2 separate regions of the Homo sapiens genome follow, and region 2 is linked to region 1. Evidence: fine-mapped QTL for protein levels in blood plasma. A gene starts in region 1. The other region holds a variant in brackets. All regions are shown on one strand. Distances are between the middles of the regions.

What was found. PIP is the chance, under the fine-mapping model, that this variant and not a neighbour inherited with it causes the effect. The UK Biobank Pharma Proteomics Project read protein levels with antibody pairs (Olink). The fine-mapping took linkage between variants from a reference panel, not from the people measured, so its PIPs are less certain.
Region 2: its variant is fine-mapped to the plasma level of the CD58 protein (UK Biobank, PIP 0.94).

What each region holds. Positions count from the first base shown.
Region 1 is chr1:116,566,276-116,575,006 of GRCh38, reverse strand. CD58 (CD58 molecule) reads left to right here and starts at 3,981. Exons shown (of 6, transcript NM_001779.3): 1 at 3,981-4,104. The coding sequence starts at 4,035. IGSF3 (immunoglobulin superfamily member 3) reads left to right here. Exons shown (of 11, transcript NM_001007237.3): 11 at 1-599. LOC124904385 (a long non-coding RNA gene) reads right to left here and starts at 4,032. Exons shown (of 2, transcript XR_007066497.1): 1 at 3,954-4,032; 2 at 257-1,193. RefSeq lists enhancers at 677-966, 4,850-4,909 and silencers at 3,780-4,239, 4,310-4,379.
Region 2 is chr1:116,526,830-116,535,560 of GRCh38, reverse strand. All of the region lies in intron 3 of CD58 (CD58 molecule), which reads left to right. It also overlaps the pseudogene NAP1L4P1. Among named protein-coding and RNA genes, the nearest start is that of MIR548AC, 29 kb to the left of the region's middle. The variant G/A (reference allele first, on the strand shown) is at 2,705.

The DNA.
Region 1 (8,731 bases):
ATATGTAAAGCAATTGTAGGAAATTTGAAAGGAAAAAAAGAAACCGAAGCCAGTATTTTAATAATTGCTTTTTCTGTGTATTTTGTATTGGGCTGGGGGATAGCATCAAAGGTTGAACTTTTTGAGCTTTCTATGAAAAACCCCAGGACCTTCTTTCTTTGGCCATTTCTATGGAAATGCGATGTCAGATGGATGGTAATGGTGCCCTCCAGTGGCTGTGAGACCTCATTGCGCATTGTCTACTGGAGCTTTAGTCTTCTGAGACGGAGGAAAACTGCTGAATACTCTGGATTCATCTATGTCTACAATGTTGCATTTATGAAAAACTACACTGTGCTAGGCGCATTCTAGGACATGAATATGACCACACCCTCTTTCACCGGGTGTTTCTGTAGCAAGTTTTCATATTCTTTTCAAACAATGGTTTCTCTGCGTTAATTATTGAGGAAAAAAAAAGATGGGGTAAGAAAACTACCCATGCATGATGTAGAGAGCTGTTGATTTGTTTCTGTTTTTTTAAAGGAAAACTATTTGTAAGATGTTGCACTAAAACATTTTATATACACTTCAGAGACCTGTAGTAAATTATGTTGAAAATACGGCTGTTTACATTTACTGCAGTCTTCTATCCTTCTTTCCCCTTACTAACCAGCCCCCTTCCTCTGTGGAACTGTGCTGTGGGAGCCTACAGTTCTGCCCTTGGCATTGGCCTGCTAGGCTCAAGGTCTGTGAATTGCAGTCTTTATTATTACACCCCATAACCTTCAAATGATAAAAACACCTCTTCCTCAAGACACTTCACTGCCATCTGCTGCAACATATAGTAAATAGACACCTCCACCCCGATGATCAAGGCTATGCTACCTCTAGAGCTGTGCAACACACAACACACCTAGCCCCTGAAAGCCAGGTTCAGAATGTAGATCTTATAACCTGTAGCGTTTTTGTTGGGGGGTGGGGTGGGGGTAGAAGCCGGATGAGAAGGAGAGCAGGAACACAGGATGGCCTTCTCTAGGGCCTCTGCGGCAAGTCCACACCATCCTTTTCCAACTATGAAGTGCTGCCCTGGCCATGAAATGCAGCGGGGATTTCCCAGAATGGTGATAAAAGCAGGAGTTGTGCATTCTAGTTAAGTGAGACTGCACAGCGCACTGGTCTCTGTTTCCTCTTCCAGTGTTGGGAGGGGTTTACATCTGCAAATTGAGAAGAATGTTAGAATGATTAAAACCATAGCAGTGATACGTGATTAGTCAGAACCCATCTATAATTCTTTAAAATTCATAGAATATGCAAAAAGGAACTAGATAGTAAGAAGCAGAGGGAGACACTTCTTTTTTTCTTCTTTTTCTAAATCCAAGACTTTCAAAAGCTTTCGTGTGTGCTTTCCTCTGCTCCCAGAACCATTGGCTGCATCCTTATCAACTCCTTGCAGCTGCTGGCTTGGCCAGGAGTTGAAAATGTGACTGCCTCTCCCTTGGGTACCCATAATGGTTCCATGTTAAGTCTTATGTATAATTTTTCCTAATTTTTTTCTAATGTTCTTTTTCTGCCAGGGTATGTTTTAAAAAGGGAAATAGAGTATTATGGAATAAGATTACCCTTCTATGTCCTTCGTGCAAATCCAACCAGTATTTATATAAATGAATGTATGTTCCCTCATGAGGCATGCAATGAAAATGACAATTTGCATTTATGCAGGATTGAGCAGTGTTTTGCTCACTACATTCTGGGATTCCTAAGCTTTGTGGGAGTAGTTCCAAAGGTTTGGCAGAAACGAGAGTCAAGACACCAGAGAGTGGCATGCTAGGAAGAACAGCCCCGGCCTCTTCAGCTGCCCTCTTTTCTTACTTTCTCATCCATGATTATCTACAGTGACAAGAAGATAAAACTGGACCTTGCAATACTAGTCACAGCATGAAAAATACATCCACCCCTCCTTTTGATAGCAGGTTCTCAGTATGTAAAGGGAATCTTTTTGGCTGCCTGCTTAACGCATTGCAGGTCCAGCATTCCTGAGCTGCTTTTGATTCATAAAATTAACCAGGCATTTGAGGGCTTCTAAAAGTGCTTGATGGACAGCATTTCTCTCAATGAAAGAGCAGGCACTGCTCCTTGGTCAAAGGAGAGTCCAACCAAGGAAGCCTAATGAGTTATTCCTCACCCAATACCTGGAGACCATGACCTGGGGGTGAGGGGCTTCCCCAGCCCCATGTGACTGGGCTGTTCTTTCCTCAGCCCTGCTCTTAAGGGGCTTAACAGCTCTTGCTGGCAGTCCAAATGGCTGCATAGCTGTCAGTCCAAAAGTCCCATTATCATATCCCGTTCCTGTATGAAGGGATAAGAGTAGAGGCATTGGACATGGCCTCAGCTGGACTCCAAGTTCTGCCCTTTACTGTGTGCCCTGAGTAATTTACCTTCCCCAGGCATCAGTTTCCTCATTTGCAAAAACAACAGCAGCAGTAAGACTAAGTTAATCCAAGCAATGCACTTCACACAGGGCCTGCTCAATAGATGTTTGCTGTCATATCACTTCCCAGCTCAAAAACTTTCTGTGGCTCCCCAGTGTCTGAAGGTCTAACCCCATCCTGCCTTTCTAAGTTGGCCTGAGTTCCTACCAGCCCAGGGCAGAGAACACTTGATTTCCTCATATTTTATGTTACACACTGCCCCTGCCTTGTGTTCCCAGTATCTACAGATGGTAGGGAATATCTCGAGATAGCAGGTTTGTGGTAGAGGGCATTGGTCCCAGAAGTTTCACTGATAGAGATACCTTTTAAGATTTTATGGCTAACTTAAGAAATAATTCATGTCTCTTTGCAATATGGTTCAAGTGTCTTGAGTGACTTCGAGTCCCCACCTGGGGATAATGGAGGTGAAGCAGCAAGAAAGCACATTCCCACTCAGTTTCACAACCTGCACCATGTATGTGTTGGTGGTTATTTGGGCAGCAGGGAGTCCTGTTCATGGAAATGGATTCCTGCTCACATAATAACTAAGAGTTCTGTGAACTCCCTCAGCTGGGCAGGGGCAACTCTGGTGCTTCTGTCTGCAAGAAAGGGGACAGACAGGGAGGCTGATGTGAGGAGCTGGTTCTGGGAATAGGGTCATTTGTTCTGGGATATAGGGATGTGAGGGGAGGGCCAGCTCAATCCAGACTGATGAAGAGCGGGGAGAGTGATGAGTGCCTGCCTCAGCTTGGGCTGGATGGATGTGGGGAGGCTGGGCAGTGAGGGAGATGTGGATCTGACATCTCAGCCTGAGGGAAAGTCCCGGTTGAGATGGGGGAAGACAGAAAAAGAGGAATCTGAGAAGGGAGAAACCAAAGGCTGGAAATCCCAGCTCCGGGGATAAGGGAGTATGGGGACGGGGGAGGCCTGCCTCAGGTAACCCTACGCCTAACAGTTGTCTAAAATGCTCCCTTTCCTTGTCATGTTTGAGGAAAAGTGGTTCAAAGAGGCCGTCTGATGCGGGATCACACAGCGCTGAAGGGATGAGGGGCCCCGGGTGCTCCCGCCCGTCCTGCTGCCTCCTCCGGTGGCTCTCTGGGAGCCACAGCCCCGTCTAGCCACGGAGGGGCCTACAGCACGCCCCAAACGCTAAGGGGAAGCGCGGGAGGTGCGGTAGGAAGGCAGAGAAACCTGGTTTTTAAAACCAAGCCATTTTCAAGGAAAGAATTTCTTACTTTAAAACCTTGGTTTTTAAAACCAAGCCATTTTCAAGGAAAGAATTTCTTACTTAAAAATAGCGTATGGAATGGCGGCGGAATGACGGGAGGGACCGAGCTGGGGGACTGGACGGCGCCCCGGGGACACAGGAAGGAGGCGCGCAGAGCCGAGGCCAGAGGCGCGCCCGGGGAGTGGAAGCGCGAAGACAAACGCGGCGCCGCGGAGGGTGGGGGAGGAAGGGCCGGGGCGGGCCGCCGGCTGCCAGCCCAGGGCGGGGCGGAGCCCTACTTCTGGCCGACCGCGTAGGCGGTGCTTGAACTTAGGGCTGCTTGTGGCTGGGCACTCGCGCAGAGGCCGGCCCGACGAGCCATGGTTGCTGGGAGCGACGCGGGGCGGGCCCTGGGGGTCCTCAGCGTGGTCTGCCTGCTGCACTGCTTTGGTGAGTGAAGCCTGCCCCAGGGGCCCCGCGCCGGCCGGCGGGTACTGGGCAGCACCCAGGCTGGGTGGACGCGCCGGGCTCGAGGCGGTTGCCGATCAGAGACGGGTGGGGACGGGTCGCTGTGGGCCGGGAACAACTCAGCCGTGGGAGCCTTTTCAGGAAGAGAAAGTTGTTATTTCATCGCCAGTGTCCCTCATGGAGTCAGCAAGGAACTGTGTGGCCTTAGGGAAGGACGGGCTCCGGCCCGCTAGCCTCTCCTGCGGGGCCTGCGCCCCCCCGCCGGCCCCCTCCCGAGCTCCAGTGACCAAGTTCCTTCCTGGGCTTCCCCAGTAACGTCGCTGAGCGCTTCAGCGGACTGCAAAATTTTTCCCAGCCGTGAACGCGCCCGGGACGGGGAGCGGGCGCGGATGCCACCTGCTCGAGGGCGACGCCTGCTGCCCTCCCCGCGCGGTGCCGTCCCCGCCCGCGCGGCGTCCGCCGTATCAGCAGAGAGGACTTTTCAGAATCGCCCCACAGCGAGGAGCGGGTAGGCAACTAGGAAGCCCAGTCGGCAGCGGCCTCACGTTGGGATTCCTAAGTGGTGCGACTCCTGCTCCTTTTTCCTCCCCTCAAATCCTAAAAACTAGTATCAGAACTGGTTCCATCCTCTCCGTGTGTTGTCAGCCAAGTCGTCACAACAACCTCAGGAAATAGGTCCCCTTCTTCCCATTTTGCCTCCCCATCCTCCTTCACCCTCCACACATTGGCCCCAGTCAGGCCATAGCAAAACCCCGGGAGTACAGCAGTAACCTCCCAGCGAGTTCAACTGTACTTGAGGGGTTCTCATGGCTGGCTCCTGCACCCCACTGCCAGCCCTCCAGCCCGTCCGTCCGTTTGCTCAGCGTCCGCTGCCTGCCCGGGAGGTGCGCGTGTGCATCTATGGAAGACAGCCAAGGGGGAGGGGTTGAGATAGACTCAAAAGTACCCGCACGATCAGATAAGTCAGTGTTGTAAGAGGCCTGGGCTGGGCGTGGTGGCTTACACCTGTCATCCTAGCACTTTGGGAGGCTGAGGCAGGTGGATCACTTGAGGCCAGGAATCGGAGACCAGCAGGGCCAACACGGTGAAAGATCGGCTCTACAAAAAATACAAAAATTAGCTGAGCGTGGTGGCGCATACCTATAGTCCCAGCTACTCGGAAGGCTGAGGTGGGAGAATCACCTGAGTCCCGGAGGCAGAGGATGCAGTGAGCTGTGATTGTGCCACTGAACTCCAGCCTGGGTGACAGAATATGACCTGTCTCAAAAAAAAAAAAAAAAAAAAAAGGTGAGCTGTGAGGGTACAGAGGGAAGAAGAAGGCAGTCTCTTTTGTGAAATCAAGTGTCTTTTGTGAAGCAGTCTTCATGGGAGGGAGGATATTTGAGCCCAGCCTTCAAGGACTGGTGATGTGTGGACATGTGATAATGTGGGAAAAGATTGCTGAGTGTCCCCTTAGGGAGTCTGGATTCTCTGAGCTGAGAGAGCTTCTCCTGGGCCTTACAGGATCAGGACCATGCGCCTGGGAAGAAGAATCTGTTAGCAACAAAGAGGAAGGCTGCAGTCAGGAGGAATTGGAGGCAGGGAGGCCAGAAGGCCAGGGTGGACTACCATCACAGGGCCCAAATAGCTCTGGGGAGTTCATGTGCGGGTGGCTGGGGAAAAGAAGAGATACAAACAGGGATTAATTGAATGGATGGGGTAACTCTCCTCCAGGCAAGCTGGTCCCTCATTCCCTGGCACCTTGGGTCACTGCTGCCTGTACCTGTGTTCTCCCTTCCACTGCAAACCCAGTTTGCCCAAGCTCCACCTCCAACAGATTATTTGAACTGTCCCTTCCTGGTGATCTCTCTCACCTAATTCATGTATTCATTCAGAAGTCATTTGATTCAGCAAACATGTATTTATAAACTGCTCTGCATAGGCCTTAAACTAAAGACAAGACTGAATGGGTATATCCCCTTTTGGGGACCCAAGCCTGCCTCATTAGGGAAGCTGCAAATGCAGTGATTAACAGCATCAGCTCTGGGGTCAGATGCCTAGCTTTGGATCCTGGCCCCACTCCTCACCTGAGTCATGAACTTGTGTGAGTTCCCTAACTTCTCTTCACTTCAGTACCTTCACTTTTGAAGAGAGTACCACTCACATGAGGGAAAGGAGAATAATAAACCCACTTCATAGAATTACTGGGAACATCAGTCATGCAATAAATATTTACTGAGTGTCAATTATATGTTAAGCACTGCACAATGGACGGGGGATACAGCAAGCTATGCACAGTTCCCTGCCTTTGTGAAGCTCACCTTATAGTGAGGGAGAGAGACAGTAAGTAAATGAGTAAAAACATGGATGCTGGATGGTGATAAAGTAAACATTTACTAGTACAGAGATGAGTAAAGCAAAGAAAGGGGTGATGGAAGTCGTTAATACTTCAGTTTAGGGTTTTTTTTGAAATTTTAGAACAATTAAAATCTTTAGGACAGTTGCAAAATTAGTACAGTGAACATTTGCGTACTTTCTCCTTGAATCACCAGTTAACTGTCACATTAGTTTTCTTTGTTATTTTTGCCATCTGTTATTTTTGCCAAACCATTTGAGAGTTTCAGATCTCATGACACCTCACCTGTAATTCTTTATCATATGTCTCATAAGAACAAGAGCATTCTCCAACAAGTCACAGAATCATCATAATCTGGAAATGTGGCATTGATACAATACTGTTTCCTGGTAGAGAACCCAGAAGCCAGTCCTGCACCACATACTTCATTTGATAATCATGCCTTTTTAACCCCCTTTAACCTAAAACTGTTGCTTTTTTTTTTTTTTTTTTTTGGTACTTTAAGACATCATCATTTTTGAAGTGTCTGGGCTAGTTGCTTTACCGAATGTCCCTTTGGATGTGGATTGCCTGCTTGTTTCCTCATGATCAGATTCTGGTTGTAACTCTTTGTAGCAGGAATACTTCATAGCTATGTTGGGTCCTTCTCAGTGTGTCACATCAGGAAGATGTGGTCTGTTTGTCACATTATTGGAGATGTTAACTTTGACATTTGGTTAAAGTGAAGTTTACCAGATTTCTCCATTGTAGAGGCACCATTTTACCTTTGTAAGTAATAAATGATGTGTTAAGTGATGTTTTGAGGTTGAGTGAATATCCTGTTCTCCAGCCATTGTTCATTCAGTGGTTTTAGTATCCTATGGTGATTCTTCCCAGAATCCATTATCACTAAAATATTTTATTTTATTTTTTGAGACAGGGTCTCACTGTGTCACCCAGGCTGGAGTACAGGGGTGCTATCACAGCTAACTCCAGCCTCGACCTCTGAGGCTCAAGCAATTCTGCCACCTCAGCCTTCTGAGTAGCCAGGACTACAGGTGCATGCCACCATGCTTGGCTAATTTTTTTTTAGTTTTTGTAGAAACAGGGTTTCCCTATGTTGCCCAGACTGGTCTTAAACTCCTGGGCTCAAGTGATCCTCCCTCCTTGGCCTACCGAAGTGTTGGGATTACAGGCATGAACCACCACATCCAGCCACTAAAATATTTTCAAATGGTAATTTTCTTCCCCCACCCTTGTCCCTTTCTTCTCCCTCCCTCCCTTCCTTCCATCCTTCCTCTCTCCCCTCCCCTCCCTCCCTCCCCTCCCCTCCCTTTCCCTCCCCTCCCCCTCCCTTCCTGTCCCTTCCCTTCCCTTCCCTTCCCTTCCCTTCTTTCCTTCTTTGTTTCATTGCCTTTTCTCTTTTCTTTTGAGACACAGTCTCACTCTGTTGCCCAGGCTAGAGTATAGTGACACAATTATGGCTCACTGCAGCCTTGATCTCCCAGACTCAAGCGATCCTCCCACCTCAGTTTCCAAATAGCTGGGACTACAGGGACATGCCTTCACGTCCACCTAATTTTTTTGTATTTTTTATAGAGACGGGGTTTTGCCATGTTGCCCAGGCTGGTCTTGAACTCCTGGGCTCAAGCAATCCTCCCAAGTCAGTTTCCCAAAGTGTCGGGATTATAGGCATGAGCCACCCAGCAATTTTCTCTTCTGTTTCTCTCTATATATATATTTATTAGTTTACATTGTTCAGTAATGGATAGCTTTTGCACACACATCCTCCCTTTTTTTCTTTTATTTTAGAAGGTTATGTGGACTCATGGATTCTTTTTTAAATATGGCATTCCTGTCATCCATTTTGATGCTCGGCAACCCCACATTTGACAAGTGGGAACACCTTCAAGCTTCAGAGTCCTTTTGCTCTGTTTGTTCCTGTTTGATTTTAAACACTTCCTTACTTTCTGGCACAGAAAGATGTTCTGGACTCATCTTGTAGTGTTCCTGCCTCAGCCTTCGAATCATTAGGTTCCCTGGTTTCTTTTAGTGAGAGATGGTATTTAGAAATCAAGTTCTGGGTGCAAAGTGTGCCCACAGGTACCAGAGTCATTGCTTCTCAGCCTTGTCAGTTTTCAAAGTTAAGAAATAGAGTTTTTACAAAGTCAGGAGTTCACCCTGATACTTCTAACACTAATAATCTTGCTGCTTAGTTCTTCTGCCTCTTCTGCTCTTCCATATTTGCATCTCCTTACTCCCACAGTGAGAACTCTGTTCTTAGTAGCATCAGTA
Region 2 (8,731 bases), 39 kb after region 1:
CAACAAGTTACAATTTTTAACAGAAACCCCATTATAGATACAAAGCTAACATTATTTAGCACTTTCTGTGTTGAGCACCATTCTAATACATATGTTAATTAATTCAATCTTCACATCAATCCTCATACAACCTATAAGTTGTGTACTAGTACTTATCCCTGTTTCCTGGTGAGAAACCAACAGAGAGAGAGTTTAAGTTGTTTGCTCAAGGTAACAGCTAGTAAGTGGCAGAACCTGGCTTTGAGTAGAGGCTATCTGGCTCTAGAGCCCATGGTTTTAACTATTCACAATGCTGCTTTATAATATTGTTATAATATCATTATGTTCTGAAAGGTTACATATCTACTACAGGAACATGCATTTGATATGTTTCCTTAGGCCTAACACTAAGTTAATATCATGACAATCTGTCTTGGCTATGATTTTCTAATGTTGTTTTAGTATTATTTACATTTGTAATTTTTATTATCTGTTTTTTACATTATATCCCCAGTTTAACAAACAAAAAGGTCAGTGACTTGAAAGTGGTTTATTAAAATATAAAAGAGACGAAAATAGTAAATACTATTATTCAGAATAATATAATTGTAAATAGTGAACAGGATTCCAGGGCAAATAGAGAATATGAGTCTCTAGGGCTGGGATAAGGTGAGTCTATGAATGAAATTTTTCTGAACAAGCAGCTGAAACAGATAAGGGAAATTAGCAAATACAAGAAATATATGAAACTTGGATTTTAACTGGTGAGCCATTCTAAGTCTCCCATTTATTGTCTTTTCTGAACCCTTTCAAACAATAACTTAAAGCCATTAAAGTTATATTATTTTCAGACAAAGCAGAGTCACTTTTGGGAAAGGAAAGACATTTTTCAAGAAAAAGTAGACGTCCTCGTCAGGGTGGGCAGCGCCGCCGCGGCGGGCCTGGGGCTTGGGGCCTGGAGCGGCCCCTCCCAGCACCCGGTGCGCCCCTGCCCTGCCGCCCACTGCCCTGAAGGTCAAGTCGCTTTGTTCTGCGCTGCGGGCGGCTTCCTCGCCGGCGGCCCAGCGGAGGAGGCGTAGAGGGCGGCGAGTGGGGGCTGGCAGCTCAAATCTCCCGCTAGCCCAGCCAGCCCCGCGTACCCGGAGGGCCGCGGCGCACCCGGAGGAGCATTCAGGCTTCCCGTTTTTAAGGTGGAGACGTCCAGGACCTCTTTATTAGATGTTTAGGAATTTGAGTTTTTCCGTAGGGCGATGGTCATCGTGAGCATCTGTGGGGTCAGGCTGGGCTAACTGGGGTTTTGATTGTAAGTTTCGTGTGGACGAGGGCATGTCTGATGGGGAAGAAAGTCCTTGGCATTGCATCTCAGCTGTTGGGAGCTGTGCGGTGCGAGCCAGATGGGCGGCGTGTGCTCCCCGAGGACTGGCCTGAGTGCCTTAGCCTAGTTACTCACGGGACTTGGTTTACCAGACAAGGGGATAAAAACATTCAGATGGCAGATAACAGTTTTTCAGATGGGGTTCCTTCAGATTTCGTGGAAGCTGCTAAAAATGCAAGTAAGACGGAAAAGCTCACGGATCAGGTGATGCAGAATCCTGGAGTTTTGGCAGCTTTACAGGAGCGACTTGACAATGCCCCTCACACCCCTTCCAGCTACATCGAAACTTTACCTAAAGCAGTAAAAAGAAGAATTAATGCATTGAAACAAATTCAGGTGAGATGCGCTCATATAGAAGCCAAGTTCTATGAAGAAGTTCATGACTTGGAAAGAAAATATGCAGCATTATACCAGCCTCTCTTTGACGAGAGAAGAGAATTTATCACCGGTGATGTTGAACCAACATCTGATATGGAATCAGAATGGCACCGTGAAAATGAAGAGGAGGAGAAATTGGCTGGAGACAGGAAAAATAAAGTAGTCATAACAGAAAAAGCAGCAGCAACAGCTGAAGAGCCAAATCCCAAAGGAATTCCAGAGTTCTGGTTTACCATCTTTAGAAATGTAGATATGCTAAGTGAATTAGTCCAGGAATATGATGAACCAATCTTGAAATACCTGCAGGATATTAAAGTGAAGTTTTCTGACCCTGGACAGCCTATGTCTTTCATATTAAGAGTTCCACTTTCAACCCAATGACTGCTTTGCCAACTCAGTCCTGACAAAAACCTGCAAGATGAAATCAGAACCAGATAAGGCTGATCCCTTTTCATTTGCAGGTCCTGAGATCATGGACTGCGATGGGTGTACTATTGACTGGAAGAAAGGAAAGAATGTTACTGTCAAAACCATCAAGAAAAAGCAGAAGCGTAAGGGTCCAGGCACTGTTAGAACAATTACCAAACAAGTATCCAATGAGTCATTTTTCAACTTCTTCAATCCACTGAAAGCATCTGGGGACGGAGAATCACTGGATAAAGATTCTGAATTCGTATTAGCCTCTGATTTTGAAATTGGACACTTTTTCCGTGAGCGGACCACAGGCTGTGCTGTACTTCGCTGGGGAGGCCTTAAAGGATGATGACAATTTTGACGAAGGTGAAGAAGAAGAGGACGAATTAGAAGGTGATGAGGAGGGAGAAGATGAGGATGAGGTGGAAATTAATCCCAACAAGGAACCCAGCCAGCCGGCGGAATGCAAGCAGCAGTAGGAAGTGGAGGTGGGCGCCTGGCAGACCGGCTGTCGCGACTCCGGGCCTGTAGCGGGAGGCCTCAGTCTTTGCCGCATGC[G/A]GCACAATCCCGTCGACAGCGCTTACTCCATCTAATCGTTTTCAAGTGCATGATTTTCACTTTCACTTTTCCTTTTTCCTTATTATTTTGCTTAATGTGTACAGTGGCAACTGAAATGCATTTCAGAAATAGGAGGTTTTGTCCAATACCCTCTGCAGCCTTGGTGCCTGTAGCTCTGGACTTGCCTGGACCCTTCCCTGCGGGAGGGCCCCATAGACCCCATTGGGGTGGGGTGGGATGGGGTGGGGATCACTTGGCTAAAAGGGCCGAGGTCTGGTGATGAGGTTCCAGGGATCTAGAACCTCTCCTACCACTCCTGCAGTTGGACTGAATTCTTTCCTTTCATTTGAAGAAACCCACTCGCTGTTTTCAGCTGCTTAATCTGCTGAGTGTGCAGCCTGCATCACCTGCTGTATGCTAATCATCTCAGAAGGGCCGTGTAGAGTAGGGCCGTATTCTCCTTAGGATGTTGCTTTTTGATCTTCTTTTTTAAGGGTTGGGTCAGGGTTGTGGCACACCAGCTCAGGCGAGAGCTGCCACGGGTCACCTCATATTTATTTATCCCTTCTTGCCTGTGAGGACTGCGGCCTTTTGCTGTCGCTCGTCCTTGCCATTTCTGAACCACCCTGGTGACCTGAGCAGGAAGATGTGCCACTTCCTAGCAGGAGCAAGGGCTGTGCGGAAGAAACACTGCTTCCTGCCACCAGGGCTGAAGACGCGAGCCTGTCCTCGTGACACAGGCACCGCCCTGCTGCCGGAGTTGGGATTCGGCAGTGTTCTCCAGTGAGGGGCTGGGCTGGGAAGTCCTGCGTTTCATTTGAGCATATGAGCGTCAAGTCCTGCTTTCTCAGTAGTCCCATTGCTGGGCCCCACCATTCATCCTGTCTGAAGGTCCTGGTTGGTGTGACCGGTTGGTGGCTGGTGAGTGGGGTTTCCAAGTGGGTGACAGCGCTCTGTGGCAGCCGGGGATGGCCTTGTCCGCGCTGACCAGGCCTGTAGAGAGTGCTCAGCCTAACCTTAGAACACATTTATAACTGAATACAGTGTTTTCAATTTGTACATAATAGTTAGAATATTCTATTAAAGTTATGAAACACGGAGAAAAAAAAGAAAAAGTGCAAATGAGTCCCAATTTATAACTGATAGATTTGATTTTTGAAGACAGAGAAAAGATCAAACCCACAGAGGTGTCACTCAAAGGAGCACTGTTTGTACAAGTCACACAATTGCAAGAAGTTTTTAAAACGAGCTGCAAAGTTAAAATAGTTAAGCTTGGAGCAAACATTCCTTTATTAATTCCACCTTTTGAGTGTTACATAATACCCAAGGCATACGATATGGAAATGCAATTTGTTGTAAAAGCAGATAGTTGCTTTATAATGGGAACAACAAAAAATAAAACCAGTGTGCTTTTGCCTTTTGGTATATGTGTGCTGCATCTAACTGACAAGGGGGAAGAAGATGACCACATATAGACAGAGCAAGCAAGTTGAAATCTTGAAAAGTTTTAAGTGTTCCAAGAGACAAAATACTTGAAGGAAATAATTTCTGAGTAAGATCCCTCTATAGAATTACATGGAATATTTTAGGGGATTTTTAAAGGTTTTGCCCTTGCAAAACTTTATGTTTAACTTTATGTTTGCCATTAGAATTTGAAGACACAAAGTAAAATTACTCTTACTGAAAGTAAGATTACTTTCCCTGTAAATAGTCTGGTAAAAGATCATAAGAGGAATGATATTCCTCTTATTGATTTGAAATAAGTACTATTAATTTGAAAAAATTCTTTTAATTATTAAATAATGGTGATTTATCCTTCTTTTACATTTTCTTCCAAATTGATAGTTCACATATATACAACAGATTTTGAAAGTTTGAGGAATGTTGCTTGATAGGTCTTAGGTTTAAATCCTGGAGTAGTGTTGACATCTGAGACATATGTCTGGGCTTCTGACCCTGGTTTCTGTTAACCAAATATTGGAGGACCTTCTCCTTTTAAAATGCAAACCAGGAGCTGAACTTAATGATCTTAATGGTTCTTTTGAACAGTAACAGTCTAGGATCTTTTTTTTTCTGAGATGATTTTTGAATGCTTTTGTGTGGAACCACATGCATCATAATAGATACAAATCCATGAAAGTATAACAGTTAAATACTAGATCTTACTTTTTCAGGTTTTGATTTCTCATCTAAACTTTCCAATGCTTTATCAGTGAAGCAAACTAACTCACATTGACTAGCCTGCTCTCCTTTAGCAAACCCTTCAAATAAATGCCTCATTTGCTCCTCACCACTATCATTTTAGATTGGCCAGACAGTTGTTACTTACCTTTTAAGAATGAGGAGACAGGTAGCCGGGTGCGGTGGCTCACACCTGTAATCCCAACACTTTGGGAGGCTGAGGCGGGTGGATCACGAGGTCAGGAGATCAAGACCATCCTGGCTAACACGGTGAAACCCCGTCTGTACTAAAAATACAAAAAATTAGTCAGGTGTGTTGGTGGGCACCTGTAGTCCCAGCTACTTGGGAGGCTGAGGCAGGAGAATGGCATGAACCCGGGAGGCGGAGCTGGCAGTGAGCTGAGACCACACCACTGCACTCCAGCCTGGGTGACAGAGTGAGATTCCGTCTCAAAAAAAAAAAAAAGAATGAGGAGACAGGGTCAACCAGGTGGGGTGACTTGCCCAGGGTCACTTAAGTATTGGAGATAGAATTAAAATTTAGGTCTTTGAATTCCAGAGTGTTTTTGTATGATACCATCCTGACTCTCTATACGTTTCAAAATAAATCAAATTTTAAAGTTTTCTTTGATTTATTCATATGAATGAGCTAGAGAAACCCATACTATATAGATATACATAGTAGATATTGGTCAAATGTAACTTAATTTTTTACCTCATTATCTCATGTTTCTTGTAACATTTTGTCTAGTAGGACCTTTTTGTGGTTTGTCATCATTTTAGTCATGACATCTACTGTCATACCGTCACTGCAACCCAGAAATGGGGCGATGGGGTTACTAACTAGTTAAACACAATCTAAAGGAGAATTTTAGAGACAGTTAAGATTGAGGACAGAGTTCTTGTCCAACTCGTATTGTACTGGGGGAATGAACTAATACTTACTGAAGGCCTGCTCCACAACAAACTCCTGTAAATGATTTACATAAATGTGTCACATTTAATCCACACAACAACCCAGTGGTGTGGGTATTTATAAAGGAGGAATCTGAGGCACAGTGAGGTTAAATAACTTGACCAAATATACACATTTATTAAGAGCAAAGCCAGGATTTGACATCCAACTCCATCTGAACTCAAAGCACTGTGTCTTCCCCACTGTACTGGGAAGTAAAAGTAAGAAGATGACTCAGAGATGGAGAATTATAATCTGGAATTTGGAATTTACTTCCATTGGTTAACCGTTTGAAAATTGCAGCTCCAAGGCATTGGGAGATGGAAAGAAAGCTAGTGAGCAATTATTTCTTGCCTTTGTGTCATGCTCCTACATTTTGCTCCTCCTTATCTCCTTATCTGCGGTCAGAGTAGATAGCATGGAGGTTTTATGCCCATGCTACAGATGTTCAGAGATCTCAAGGTCAGAAAGCTGGTTTATGGCAGCACGTGAATATAGACAGACTTATACAGATTAGAAAATTGAGAAGTTGAGGGCAGGAGAAAATTCTGGATAGAAGAGAACATGGGATTGGGAGCAAGAAAACCTAGGTCCTAGACCTGATTTCATTGCTTACTGGCAGTGTGAATGTGGGGGATAATAATACTTACTTTACAAGGGCTGAGGAAATTAAATAAAATAGCATGTGGGAAAGAGTATTGATGGTTAGTCACTATAAAACTGCTAGTTGTTATTCAGGATACAGGAAGAGTTTCAAGAGAGGACATTTGGTATAACATTATATACAGCCAATGGTTTAAGGAGGACAATGTAGAAGAGGTTGTGGATTTGGCACTTAGGAGGTCATTGTTGACAGACCTTGTGAATAGATGAGGGTAGGAACCAGATTCCTGGGCTTTAAGTAAGAAGAGGGGTAGTCCAATAGGCCAGTTATATATTTGGCTGTGAAAGAGGAAAATAAAATCTGAGTACCTTTGAGAGTCAAAGGCTATTTCCAGGTAAAGAAACCCAGTGCACTTCACCATTCTCTTTTAGATAACTGCTGGGAAGAAGTAGGATGATTGTAACACCCTCCACATTGACACAGAACTCTAAATGGGAGCCTAGGGAAAGGGCACATTTTTTGAAGGGGTAGGCAAGAGGATATTCTCTAGAGTACCAGTTTCCAACTGTTGTACACATTTATGGACCAAGAACATAAAAGAAACATTGTTCAGTTCCGACCTGAAGTTATGTAGAACAAACATTGTTCTGAGTTCAACTAGATGATCTTTCTTTCATAGCTGTGTGGACATTATGTTACCTGCAGGGAGTAAGTCACTGAAGGTAGAGCCTCAAAAAAACACCCTTTGATCTTACTCCTAAGAAAAAAGAGAGAAATTGGAAAAATTCATCATAGAAACACAAAAATATGCGGAAATAGGAAAAAGGAGAAGAAGGAAAGAAATGCAACATAGGAAATAATATTATGTAGACTGAGATAAAGAATGTTAAGAATATTTGAACAAAGTTTGAACCAGATGAAATGTAACAGGCAGAAACAGAAGTAGGAGGATTTTTGGACTGATTTAAGTTGGTCTCTTGTGACTTTTATGACTTTCCACTGGGAAGAATAGTGATTAAGAATGTTCACTCTGCTTTTAAAAATTGAGAAAGAACGCTGCGTGCAGTGGCTTATGCCTATAATCCCAACACTTTGTGAGGCCAAGACGGGAGGATTGCTTGAGGCTGAGAGTTCGAGACCAGCCTGGGCAACATAGGGAGACCCTATCTCTACTAAAAATTAAAAAGTTACTGAGGTGTTGTGGCATGTGTCTGTAGTCCTAGCTACTTGGGAGACTGAGGTGGGAGGATCACTTCAGCCTGGCAGTTTAAATAAATCAGATCAGTAATTAATAATCTTCCAAAACAGAAAGCACCAGGTTCAGATGGGTTCATTGGTGAATTCTACCAGATATTTAAGGAAGAAATACTAATTCTCTATAATCTCTTTTAGAAGATAGAAGCAGAGGGCATACTTTCCAATTCATTTTATGAGGCCAGCATTATTCTTGTGCTAAAACCAAAGAACAATACAAGAAAAGAAAATTAAGACAAATATTTCTCATGAACATACATGTAGAAACCTTAAACAAAATATTAGCAAATTGGATCCAACAGCATATAGAAAGAATTATACATCATGACTAAGTGGTATTTATCTCAGGTGTGCAAGGCAGGTTCAACATATGAAAATCAATTAATGTAATCCATCACATTGACAGACTATGAAAGAAAAATCACATGATCATACCAATAGATACAGAAAAAGCATTTGACAAAATCCAACATCAATTTATGATAAAAACTCTCAGTAAACTAGGAATAGAGGGGAAACTTTTTCAACTTGTTAACAAATGCCTACAAAAAACCCTGCAGCTAACATCATCTGTAATGGTGAGAAACTTGAAGCTTTCCAACTAAGACCAAGAATAAGGAAATAATGTTCTTCTCACCACTCCTTTTCAGTATTGTACTATAAGCACTAACTAATGCCATAAGACAAGAAAAGGAAATAAAAGTTATACAGATGAGAAGAAAGAAAGAAAATTGTTTTAGTTCTCAGATGACATGAATATCTATGTATACAATCCAAACGAATTGACCAAAAACCTCCTGGAACTAATAAAAAACTATAGCACATTTGTAGGATACAAAGTTAATATACAAAAGTCAATCACTTTTCTATAACAGCAATGAACAAGTGGAATTTGAAGTTTAAAACACAACACCATTTACCTTAGCACCCCAAAAATGCAATACTTAGGTACAATAACAAAATATGTCCCAGATTTATATGAGAAAATCAACAAAACTGATGAACAAAATCAAAGAAGAACTAAATAAATGGA